3 separate regions of the Homo sapiens genome follow, and regions 2 and 3 are each reported to be linked to region 1. Evidence: microRNA targets listed by miRTarBase, many of them from high-throughput screens and not tested one by one. Region 1 holds a microRNA gene; each other region holds the end of a gene's coding sequence.
Evidence for each region. Region 1 holds the annotated microRNA hsa-miR-5195-5p (AACCCCUAAGGCAACUGGAUGG, at 2,563-2,584, shown strand). A microRNA usually pairs through its seed, bases 2 to 8, with sites in the 3' UTR of a target mRNA and lowers its output. Matches are read on the target gene's strand: a 7mer-m8 pairs with bases 2 to 8, a 7mer-A1 pairs with bases 2 to 7 and ends in A, and an 8mer does both.

Region 1 (4,189 bases):
CATCAGAGGTGTAAATTGCTAGAAAGACCCTGACTACTGACACATGTCTATAGCATTTATAATATCAAAGGATGAGAAAGTGTAGGATAAAAGACATTCAGTGCCTGGATGGCTATAGAATCACATGGCATGAGATGATGTGTGCACTCCAATAAGGAGCAGGAAGTGAAAGTAATCCATGGAATTTAGAAACGACGGACACAGCTCCCTAGGAGTTGTTCCCTGAACAAGAACAAGTAAAAATAATGAAGAACAACCTGAGTATGCAACTCATATCTGTGATAGCTAAAATAATAGTAAAAAGATGCACATCCAGCCCTGCAGTGTGCCCTGTGAGCCAAGGCTGCTAGACTCCCATTCACTGCCAAAGGGTACAGTTGTCCAGAAACAACACACAACACACAAGAGCTACACAGATGGTAGCCCAGGGTTTGGACTGGGGAGGGGAATCCACTTGACAACTAGAACAGGGAGGATAGTGTGGAAAGTGGCATCATTTTGTGATATGAATGATATCATTAATAGATATCATCAGATCGTGAACAACATTAGCCAATGGACTAGGAGACTGACTGATGTAGCAGATTCTCTTTGGCTTCATGTGTTGCATAAGGGAGGAGCATGTTTGGGAAGATGCTGGACCCACAGCTCACAATAGACACATCACAGATGGCTCTAGCTGATCCCAACCTCAAGTAGGATGCTTCTGATGGGACAGCTTTCCTCAAGCACTGGATCCCGATCATGTAAAGTTTCTCTACCCTGAGAATGAGACTGCCCTTTCTCTCTTTAAAATGCAAAGTGGGCTCTCCAGATGAGGAGCCCAATGCTGTATATGGAAGCCATAGTGCTATGTGTTTATGTTGATACCGACGGTCATTGCTTAGCATGCATCTTATCCAGGTCCTGCTGCTGTGTGTTTCTGTTGATGCTGCTGGACATTGCTTCGCATGCACCTTACCTAGGTCATGGCCTGTGCTGTGATAAAGAGAAGTCCTTTTGCTTCTGCACCCCAGGTACAACTCCTGTGAGCAATCTGGCAAATATTTTAGAAACTGTGTAGTTTGTATTGCCTTGTCTTTTCATTTGAATCTTTTAGATGATAAGGAAATGAGAGTGGTTCACAAGATAATGGGGCAGACACAGGGGATAGTTAAGGGCCTCCTCCAAGCAATGTGGATATCATAAAATGAATGTTAAAAAATGAAAGAACTAAACAAGAAGGTGCTGGGGTTGACACAAAGGACTTAAAACAGAACTACCAGGAGTTGGGTGCAGCAATGGCAATCCCTTCAGTTCCATCAGCAATTCAGAGACCTAAACAAATATTCCCTATTTATGTTGAATTGGCAGACTGTAGAAATGTAGAAGACAAAATGACCAGAAAAAATGTGTGATTTGGCATGGGTGAAGGTCTGGCAAGTTAATCAAGTTGAGGACTGTTGAAGCCCTAGGGTGGTCCTGCCTTTGCTGGGTGCCCAGACCATAATGGCACTCATGGGAAATTGCCAGCAAGTAGAAACTAGGTGTTTTTTTTTTTTTTGTAGTTCTTATTATCAGGCATATGTGCATTTGAATTTTGTCTTCATAGCATTTCCTGGTTCTATTTCTCATTTTTTAAAACACACGTGATTTCATCTAGATTTATCACCTTCACAGGGTCACAGAGAAGGGTAGGAAGAAGGGAGGCCCTGGTTTGGGTCTTGTAGGACCATGGACAAGAGTGCGGAGGGACAACAGGGGGTTGTAAGACATTATTAAGACCTTATTCTGCCTCTCCCAAGAGGCTCAGTTCAGCCGTTTTTCTGCAGTTGCGGTTCTGGGTTATAAACCTTGTAGACTCTTCCCTTCAGGCCAGGGCGGCAACTATGCAAATTCAAGTGGGGGCCTCCCCACTTAAACCCAGGGCTCTCCTCCACAGTGAGTCTCCTTCACCACCCAGCTGGGATCTCAGTGCTTTCTTTTCTGTCCTCCTCCAGGATGGGGTCAACCGTCATCCTTTCCCTCGTCCTGGCTGTTCTCCAAGGTCAGTCCTGCCCAGGGTTTGAGGTCACAGAGAAGAATGGGCAGAAGGGAGCCCCTGATGCAAATTTTGTGTCTCCCACACAGGTGTCTTTGCCGAGGTGCAGCTGTTGCAGTCTGCAGCAGAGGTGAAAAGACCCGGGGAGTCTCTGAGGATCTCCTGTAAGACTTCTGGATACAGCTTTACCAGCTACTGGATCCACTGGGTGCGCCAGATGCCCGGGAAAGAACTGGAGTGGATGGGGAGCATCTATCCTGGGAACTCTGATACCAGATACAGCCCATCCTTCCAAGGCCACGTCACCATCTCAGCCGACAGCTCCAGCAGCACCGCCTACCTGCAGTGGAGCAGCCTGAAGGCCTCGGACGCCGCCATGTATTATTGTGTGAGAGGGACCATCTAAAACCTTCCGCGGTGCAGGTGCAGAGTGAGCTGCCAGACACACCCTCCCCAGGGGCCTCTCTATTCATCCGGGGAGGAAACACTGGCTGTTTGTGTCCTCAGGAGCAAAAACCAGAGAACAACATGGGAGCGTTCCTAACCCCTAAGGCAACTGGATGGGAGACCTGACCCATCCAGTTCTCTGAGGGGGCTCTTGTGTGTTCTACAAGGTTGTTCATGGTGTATATTACATGGTTAACATCAAAAGGCTGCCTAATAGGCACCTCTTCAATATAATAGTCTTTTAATTAGTGAAAATTTTACACAGTTCATCATTGCTTGCTTGCCTTCCTCCCTTCTGTCCGCTCTTACTCCCTCCTTCTTTTATTTTCTACTTACTTTTCCAAAATCATTTAACCCCTTTTTGTACCATTAATAAGTTATCTTGTTTTTGTTGTTGTTTTCCTTTTAACAATATGCACTGAATAATTCATCTTTGTGCCAATTCGTAAATATTTTGATATAACAAAGACTTCTGTCATAAATAGATTTCCTGTGAGTAATCTTGCAAATATTTTAGAACCTGTTTGGTTAAGAATAAATTAAAATAAATAGACAAATTTTTAAAGACATACAACCTATCAAAACTGAACCACCAAGAAATAAAAAATCTGGGCTGGGCGTGGTTGCTCATATGTGTATTCTCAGCACTTTGGGAGACCGATGCGGGTGGATCACCTCAGGTCAGGAGTTCAAGATCAGCCTGGCCAACATGGCAAAACCCCGTCTCTACTAAAAATACACAGATTAGCTGGGTGTGGTGGTGTTCACCCGCAGTCCCATAGTCCCGGCTACTCGGGAGGCTGAGGTAGGAGAATGACTTGAACCTGGGAGGCAGAGGTTGCAGAAAGCCAAAATCGAGCCACTGCACTCCAGACTGAGCAACAGAGTGAGACTCCAATTAAAAAAAATCTGAACAGACCAATGAGTAAAGAGATCGAGTCAGTGATTTTTCCAACATCTCGAATCAAAGTCCAGAACTTCATGGCTTCACTACTGAATTTTATCAAAAATTAAAAAAAACCTAGAATCTCTACTCAAATTTCCAACAAAATAAAGAGAAAGAAATATATCCAAGCTTATTTTGGAAGGCCCTATTTCCAAAGCAAGGAAAAGACACTACAAGTAAATAAAACTACAGGCCAATATCCCTGATTATCATAGTTTCAAAAACTCTCAAGAGTGATGAGATGACAAACAAAATTAAACAGCAGATTAAGAATAGAATTCACCATTATCTGTGTCTCCCATACCCAGAGAGGCTGCTGCTTGCCCTGCACAAGGATACTCTGAGCAGAAACCTACCTGGCCCAGCCCTCACCTTGCTTTATGCAGCCATCTGCCCTGGCAGCTTAACACAAAGGACAGCATCTTTTGGGAGATACATGGCCACACCCACTGCCTGAGAATCCACAGTAGCCCCTATTCCTGGGCAACATAAGCCAAGCAAAAACCCCACTGTTAATACTGTAGCTGGTGCTCTTTGGAAAGCACCATCTCCAAGCAGGAAGCCAATAAACAGTCCATCACAGTATCTCCTGGTAGACTATCACTGCACCCAGAAAGGAGAAAATGACTGTGTGATCTCAGCTATGACCAGTGCCTGCACCACTCTGGATGACCAGGAGGTCCTGAGTCTGTCCATGTGAACAGTTCATTACCGCTATAACCAGCATTCAAGAAAGCCAGTACACAAAGGCTATCAATATCTAAGGAATTTCAGTC
Region 2 (4,189 bases), not on the chromosome of region 1:
GGTCTCCTAAAAGAAAATTGTCCCGCTCACCATCCCCTAGGAGGTAAGAATGTTAATCATTTAAATGTATTTTTTATATTTTTCAGAGGTTTTTCATTTTAAAACTGTCCTGTAGTTTTTCTTTTCAGCAGTTACAGTTCTTAAGAATGTTTTAATGTATTCTCCTTCTGACTTGTGACTTAAACACCATTAAGGACTGAACATTTTAGTCCTATAAACAAGTTAGTTTTGTAGCCTGTGTTACTTCTCCAAGGTTTTGAAGTTGGATCTTTGCTGTACTACTTATATCCTGTGAAATTGAGTCAGGCTCATCATCTAAACAAGTTAAACCTGTTGCTGTACATTTTACTGTCATTCTAGACATAAAAAGGAGAAGAAGAAAGATAAAGACAAAGAAAGAAGTAGGGATGAAAGAGAACGATCAACAAGCAAGAAGAAGAAGAGTAAAGATAAGGAAAAGGACCGGGAAAGAAAATCAGAGAGTGATAAAGATGTAAAAGTATGTTTACAAATTGATTTATTTTTATATTTGGGGTGATGTTGGTACTTTCAGAAGTTATTTTTCTTTGGAGAAGTTTACTTTTATTATTCTCCTTGGCAAAGCAGGTTACACGGGATTATGATGAAGAGGAACAGGGGTATGACAGTGAGAAAGAGAAAAAAGAAGAGAAGAAACCAATAGAAACAGGTTCCCCTAAAACAAAGGAATGTTCTGTGGAAAAGGGAACTGGTGATTCACTAAGAGAATCCAAAGTGAATGGGGATGATCATCATGAAGAAGACATGGATATGAGTGACTGAATATTGCCTCTGAGGGAGTCCAACTGTATACCTGCATCAGTGTCATTCCTTTGTGTGATTTCTTAATGCTGTATTTGTTCATCTCAAACCTAGATGTATACAGCTCTGAGTTATAAATGGTTATAAAGCTCCTGTTACTCATATTAGTTATTTACATCAAAAAGCTTTTAGAAAATGGTACGAGGTAACCAATTCTTGTCATGGTGAAATCTGATTGAGTAACCAAGCAGTTTTACTATTCTGGTGCTGCTTCATAACAAAAATGAAAAGCTGCATGCATCTACAGCAGGCATGGATTGTTTATGTCGTATGATATCCTTTATTAAGTAAGTTCACTTATAGTATTTCTATAATTTGATTCATTGCCGTAATAGAGCCATGTAGGAAATGCACTGATTGCATGTTATTGTGGCAAGAATATCCTAAATGTCATTAAAATCCTCCAACATGATGGATCTACTTATGGTCTTGTTTGTTGACATGACAAATTAACATTCTTATAGTTACATCTGGAAATGAGCATTTGAAATAGATAATCCTTTAAGCCTTGTGGCAAAATTTTTGTGGCTTTTGTTTAACTTTGAAAGGTTATTATGCACTAACCTTTTTTGGTGGCTAATTAGGGTTTAAATACAGAAACAAGATTTCAAATAAAACTGTCTTTGGCAGTGAGTAAATAGCATATTTTGAAGTAGAGTTGTATACTTTTTCATAAGATGTTTGGGAATTTTTTTCCTGAAGTAATAATTTATTCCACATCTACATCAGTGAAAGCTATCTACCTATCCTGAGTCTATCTTAAAGGAAAAAAAGAAAAAAACCTTATCTCTTGCCCTTATTTTGAATTTTCCACTCTTTCATTAATTTGTTTTAAGCTCCGTGTTGGAAAAAAGGGGTAGTGCATTTTAAATTGACCTTCATACGCTTTTAAAATAAGACAAATCTACTTGATAATGTACCTTTATTTGATCTCAAGTTGTATAAAACCAATAAATTTGTGTTACTGCAGTAGTAATCTTATGCACACGGTGATTTCATGTTATATATGCAAAGTAGGCAACTGTTTTCTTAGTTACAGAAGTTTCAAGCTTCACTTTTGTGCAGTAGAAACAAAAGTAGGCTACAGTCTGTGCCATGTTGATGTACAGTTTCTGAAATTGTTTTACAAGACTTTGATAATAAAACCCTTAAACTTATGTTCATGTTCCTGTAAAACCGTATTTGTATTTATTTACGCTACTGAATGTATGACATTTACCTCATTCATTTTACAAATTCTTTCCCTTTCTGTCCACATATTTCAGTATAGTAAAAAGAGGAAGTCTATCACTGTAGTGATAATTGCCATCAAAATTGTCAAAAATGATTTAATTTCTATCCAAAATAGTCCTTTTCTTAGCTTAGTATCATTTTATTGCTTATTTTTTGTGTGGGAATGGGGTTGGATAAAGCAATGAACTTTAGTATAAACAAATCCCACCTATATCTAGCAAATTTATATTTTCGGTGAAATACAGATATTTGCCTTTCTGGAGTAGTATAGAAGCTGTCAATATGTATCTACTGTACAGTACTAAATAGTATTCATTTATGAAATGAGTAGTGTTTGGGTGGCTGGGGTTAAGGGAAAATGAGACTTGGAATTGTAGCTTTTATCCAAGTTTTGAGTATAAATAGGGTTTTGTTTTGTTTTTTTTAACCTAAAAACTGAAATGCCATATAGAAAAACAGCATTGTTTTTACAGTTTGTAGTAAGTAACTTTTTAAAGATTTTATCAAAAAGAATTGTCTATAGTGAGTAAAAGAAGTTCTAATAATGGTCCTAATCACTGCATTTTTAAAAAACAAAGTTCAACACAAATGACATTTGTTTTAAACTTTAGTAGATAAAAGGTGAACCATGTGACATGGGCATTTTTGTAAGTCAAAAACAAATTTCACATATGGTAAACCTAATATTCACAGTGTGTTCCCTCACTTGTAATCTCTGAATACAAATATACTAGCTTTTCTAAAGGGAATCATTTTTTTAAAAGTAGTGCCACTGACAAGATGCTACAGTGAAGATTATCCATTCTTAGGATATTTATTTTCAGTGAACATTTTCTGCACAAAGGTAGTGTTGCACTGGGACACAAGCCTTTTAACAGATAACCAGTTGAAATCAAACACTGCCTCCACACCGAGTTCTGTTGTGTATTTGATAGTAAATTGATTTAAAAATAAAAGTGGTTTTTGTTAGAAAAATGTTTTGTCCTTATTTATTTGCTTAAATCCTTTAGGAGTGAACGAGAGGTGGTAGCTATACAATGAGCTTTTTTAAATGGAAAGATAAGAGTCCAGTCATGCATTTGGTCTTTATTTCATAGAGCTGGAGATAACTGTGTTCCTTACCTTCAGTTTCCTACGGGTAAAATGGAAGTGATTGCTACCTTGCAAAGTACAGACATACCTCGGAGGTATTGTGGGTTTAGTTCCAGACTACAATAAAGCAGTTCATGAATTTTTTTGGCTTCCCAGTGCATATAAAAGTTGTTGGCTGGGCACTATGGCTCATGCCTGTAATCCCAACACTTTGGGAGGCCAAGGCAGGAGTGCTTGAGCCCAGGACCAGCCTAGGCAACATAGCAAGACACTGTCTACAAAAAAATAAATAGCCAGGTGTGGTGGTGCACACCTGTAGTTCTAGCTACTGTGGAGGTTGAGGCAGGAGGATCACTTTGAACCCAAGGAGTTGGGGCTGCAGTGAACTATGATCATGCCACTGCGCTCCAGGTTGGGTAATAGCAAGACCCCATCTGTATCTGTAAAACAGTAATTTTTAAAATGTAGCCTTTGGTGCCTGGGACATTAAATGATAGCTGCTATTTGATTATGGGGCCCTTAAAAGTTATGTAACTAATAATTTGTGTAGGGGGTAATGTTAAAAGCACAAAATAAATTGCATACCTTTTATTGAAAAGGCTGTGTTGCCCTTAACTGTTTTCATGAAGATGGATCTTAGGTAAGTTTCCTCGTGGCAATTCTATACATGGAAGACAGAAAAATGCAAATAGGCACTTGGGAAAAGGAAGGAGAGGATAAAAATTACTGTTAACCTTGGAGCTACATCTTAAAACTGAGTCAGGTTCTGGAGTGTGCATTATACAGCTTATGTCATGCAGATTACAGTATTAATACATCAAATTTATCTCTAGCAAAATTATCACTCAGTTGGGCACTAGATGAAGGGTTGGATCCATGCATGCTGTTTGTAGATTGATACACATCTTTTCAAATGGAATTGAGATTTCTTTTCCCTCAGTCTGCCTCAAAACCAGCTAATGCATTTCATCCCTGTGCTTCTATTTTTTCTAATCAAGTACATGTGGTTGTGTTTTAATTAAAT
Region 3 (4,189 bases), not on the chromosome of region 1:
CTCTCCTGGGCCAGCCTGCATCTGCAAAGAACCTGGGGAGAGGATAGAGAAACCAGGACCTGCGTGGTGGGCCCTGAGAGGCTTGGGGACTGCAGGATGGAGTGGCAGGTGACCTTATTCCCTGTGTAGATGCTACTTCCTTTAAAAAAAGTTTTAGAGACAGGGTCTGTCTCTGTCATCCAGGCTGGAGTGCAGTGGTGCGGTCATAGCTCACTGCAGCCTCCAACTCCTGGGCTCAGGCCATCCTCCCGCCTCAGCCTCCTAAAGTGCTGGGATTATAGATGCGAGCCACTGAACCCAGCCCTTTTAGTGCTGTGTACACACTGTCCCTCTCCTCTCCTCTCCTGGGGAATGGCTGCTCCCATAGCTGCAATCTTCTCTGTAGCCTATGATACACTTTTTAATGTCCCAACTTGCATGGATCCTGTATTCTCTGCAGGCTGTGGAGACATAATCACAGTCTACCTTGGCCCATGTATAGACCATATTTTTCTAGCCAGAGTCCACACTTCTCTCCCAGGGCCATGTGGGTCCTGCCCCCTTCTAGAGCAAGTCCTCCTGCCATATTCTCAGCCTCCCCCTGCCTAGCCCAGTCCTCACCCACATAGACCCGGCCATGCTCCACAGAGGCCGGGATGGCCCGGAAGAGCCAACCTCCCAGGCGCAGGCCCTGGCGGTAGAAGTCCCTCATGATCTGGTGGCCTTCACCGTAGATGCCCGTGGGACGAAGGGCACACGTCACCAGGGGCAGCCCCCCACGGACCTGGTGGCAAAGGCAGGTACTGCTGAGACCTGGGACCCGACAGCTTGCTCTCGGCCCCGGCCTCCTTGGGCTGGCAGGGTAAGGGGGTGTGCAGGGCAGGAGCCCCATCTCTGCGCCTCCTTTTTCTGGGCTCACCTTCCTCCCGTTGGCCTCCAGGACCAGCCACTCGGCCAGGGCCTTGCTGCAAGGATAGGGGTGCCTGTGCACTGCTTCGTATGGGGTGTCTTCGTTGCCCCTGGTGGGAGGAGAAGGAAGACTCAATGCTGAGGGAAATGGGCTCTTAGAGGACAAGAGGGCCTGCCACTCACCTGTAGAAGGGGTGACCTTTGGTGTTAGGCCCCACAACTTCCATGCTGCTGGTGTAGACCAGGAACCGTGTTCCGGTCTGCACACAAGCCTCGATCACGTTCCGGGTACCTGGCAGAGGAGGAGGCGTATCCAAGCTGCAGCTTCTTCCCTCTCTGCATCTTCCTCCTCCCCATCCCAGGTCCAGGGAAAACCATGACAGGTCAGGGGAGGCGGGGGCAGGGCTGTCAATAGGACAACTTGTCCCAGGGGAGTCACCGGAGGTCAAGGCCAAAGACAGAGTGGGGAACAAACAGGCAAGATGGCCAGGAGTGTCCAGAGCTCCTCACCCTGCACGTTGACCTCATGGATGGTCTTGGGACTGGCCCTGCCAAACACGTCTACCAGCCCAGCCGTGTGGATGACCACATGGGCTCCGGCCACAGCTGCTGCCACCTCATGGGCCTGGGTCACGTCCCCCTGGATGGCAGTCACCCTCACAGGCCCTGGCCGGGGTTGGAGGACACAGGCCATGTCAGAGCTGGGGCCAGAGGCCAGAGGCTGGGTTCATCTTCCACCCTGGAGTCACGTTCCCAATGTGACTCACTCGACCCATCCATGTGGACAGAAACCAGCATCATCTGTTCCACTGCAGGGGTGGGGATCCCAGCTTGGGAAGGGTTGGGGAAGCGTCCACACCCTCTCCACCACAAGCTCCCCCAACAAGAACCTGTCTTCAGCTCCTCCAGCCAGGGACCCAGGTGTTGGTCAAAGACCCGCAGCTCCCCGAGCCGGGGCTCCCGCTGCAGCAGCATTCGCACCACGTGCTCTCCCAGGAAGCCACAGCCCCCTGTGACCAGGTACACCAGCTTCTGGGCCTGTGCAGAGTCGGCCATGCCTGGCTGGGGAAGAGACCTTGGCTCATCCAGGGGCTGGCTGCCACCTGCTGCAACCACCTGTTACTGCTGGAGGTGCCCTGGAGCGGTGACGAGGCTGGCGTTTGCGGGGAGGGCAGAGCTGATCCTGGGAGCTGCAGCAACCAGGCCACCTGCCGTCTGCCCCTGCTGATGGCTGAGTTACGGAGAGAGGGGCGGGCTTGGGGTGCAGGAAGGGGTCAGGGTTTAGGGAGAGAGATTTGAAGGCAGTAAAAGGGTGGGGAGGCCAGGAGTTGAGGGAGGTGGAGGGAAGGTTATAGGAAGGTGGGAAGGGCCGGATGGAGGGAAAGGCCACCTGGGCACTGGCAGCGCCTCTGCCTACCTGCAGCCGCTATCCCAGGGTGCCCAGACTGGCCTGGAGGGGCCCTCTTCTTTCGTCCAGGGCTGGCCGGCCCGCACACCGTCCTTCCGCTGGCTCCTCCTTCTCCCTCCTGCCCCATTCCAGGAACAGAGACCCGCCCAGCCACAACCCCCACCACTCTTGCCCCAAGGCGCCCCCTGGCGGCCGCTCTGTGCTCCACTGGCATCTGGGTCCAGCGGAGAACTTGGTGGGGATGAAGCTCGAACTTGCAGAGTGGGCTGAAGGGGTCTGGGGCTGTGGGTGGAGCCAGCGGTGACCTCATCCCACAGTGTGACCTCAGGCCTTCCCTCCTGCTGGGCTTCCCAGGAGGCCGGAGGTCCAGCTGCAGCTGTGATTGTAGGAAGGGGAGGCCTGACCTTGGCACCACCCTGGCGGGCACTGGTGGGGTATTCCTGGTGCGGGTGCGGCTGCTGCAGCCTGTCAGGGGGTCCGAGACAGTCTCGGACTGTCTCTGCAGGTCTGGGCTCTTGCCTGAAGGCCCCTTTACCTGCCCCACACTTCAGGTACCCACTTTTCCCTCTCTTCAACTTGCACAACCCTCCGTGCCCTCTACCCCCAACCCCTCGCTCCTGCCCAAATACACCGACCAAACACTTTTGTACAATAAAGTTTAATCACAATTATAAAAATGTGGCGTCGGGTTTGCGCTATTAACATATGTACAGTCCAGCCCAGCAAAAGGGACCCACCCCGCCATCCTGGCCTGGCTGAGCCGGGGAGTGACACCAGGGTGGAAGGGTGACCCTCAGGGTCTGGCAGGAACAGATGAGGCAGGGTTCCAGGCACGGAGTCCCCAGGACTGGGGGTGCAGAGCCCCCCCAGGGGGAGAACATGGCCACTGCCCCAGAGACCCCTAAACTGGGGAGGGGTACACGCAGGGCGTAAGGGGAAGTCCCCATTAACACAAAGCAAGAGGACTGTGTAGCCCCCCAGGACAGAATCTGTACAGGCCGGCACCCCAGGTTTCCACAGGAAACAGCTGCTGGCTGCTACAAAACATTTACAGCTTCTTCTCCGCAAAGAAAAACAATCAGGGGGTGGTGGGCAGGGGTGACAGGAGAGGCAGAAGCTGCCTCCAGGGACTGAGGCTCCCTCGCTGGGCTTGGGGCCCCCAACCCCACGCTTGGAGATGGGGGCATGTGGGCCCTGCTGAGCCCACTAAGGCTGGGGGGGTGCTGGGAGCTCAGGGCACCAGGGGGAATAAATAGGGGTGTGGGCACCCATCCTGCCCCACCTCAGTTTAGGGAGCCCCGGCAGCTCTCTGTGCCACACAGACACGGGATCTTGTTGTCTTCCAGTGGGAACTTGTAGTCGTAGGTGATCTCCTCGTCCACGCCAATGGGCTGCTTGGAGTAGATCACGATCTTCTTCTGGGACTCGATGGTGATGACCTTGGCGTAGCAGTTAGGCTGCGGATGGAAGGGCGTGTGAGCCGTGGCCACCCCCACCGACCCCCAACTCCTGCCCCGGCTGGCCCCTGGCGCACCGTGCAGCAGTGGTTGATGAATCTGGCCAGGTTGCCACACTTGGTGGCATCGATGATGGTGTCGTGGTCCACCCGGAACAGGTAGCTGCTGCCAATGCCCTCCTGCACGTAGCGCTTCTCCCGCATGTCGGCCACCATCTGCCAGGGTGAGATGCGATGGTCAGGGAAGAGTCCCCCACTTCCTGCCCCTGAGCACGCCTGCCAGCCAGCACCCCAGGTCCACGCCCACCAGGCCTGGAGCTGCAGCTCTGCCTCCAGCTCCCGCTAACCCGGCACTGACTCTCTCGACTCTGCTTCCAGGAGCCCTCCCTCTTTGGGGCAGCATCCTAAGCCTCTGGTGGCCATTCTAAGTCACCCGC

Region 2: the mRNA of SRSF11 is a reported target of hsa-miR-5195-5p. Seed matches in the 3' UTR shown: 7mer-A1 at 1,693-1,699.
Region 3: the mRNA of SETD1A is a reported target of hsa-miR-5195-5p. Seed matches in the 3' UTR shown: 7mer-m8 at 3,194-3,200.

Annotation. Positions count from the first base shown.
Region 1 is chr14:106,849,338-106,853,526 of GRCh38, reverse strand. It overlaps MIR5195 (microRNA 5195), which reads left to right and starts at 2,528; the gene lies at 2,528-2,642. The region is part of intron 1 of LOC124903399 (a long non-coding RNA gene); the gene reads right to left. It also overlaps IGH and the pseudogene IGHV5-78.
Region 2 is chr1:70,250,005-70,254,193 of GRCh38, forward strand. It overlaps SRSF11 (serine and arginine rich splicing factor 11), which reads left to right. Exons shown (of 12, transcript NM_001350605.2): 10 at 1-43; 11 at 361-499; 12 at 604-3,048. The coding sequence ends at 801. Among named protein-coding and RNA genes, the nearest start is that of SRSF11, 31 kb to the left of the region's middle. RefSeq lists a silencer at 3,919-4,119.
Region 3 is chr16:30,983,414-30,987,602 of GRCh38, reverse strand. SETD1A (SET domain containing 1A, histone lysine methyltransferase) reads right to left here. Exons shown (of 19, transcript NM_014712.3): 18 at 3,831-3,968; 19 at 2,939-3,753. The coding sequence ends at 3,580. HSD3B7 (hydroxy-delta-5-steroid dehydrogenase, 3 beta- and steroid delta-isomerase 7) reads right to left here and starts at 2,396. Exons shown (of 7, transcript NM_025193.4): 1 at 2,306-2,396; 2 at 1,779-1,950; 3 at 1,399-1,554; 4 at 1,072-1,180; 5 at 899-998; 6 at 601-763. The coding sequence starts at 1,944. RefSeq lists an enhancer at 2,415-2,927.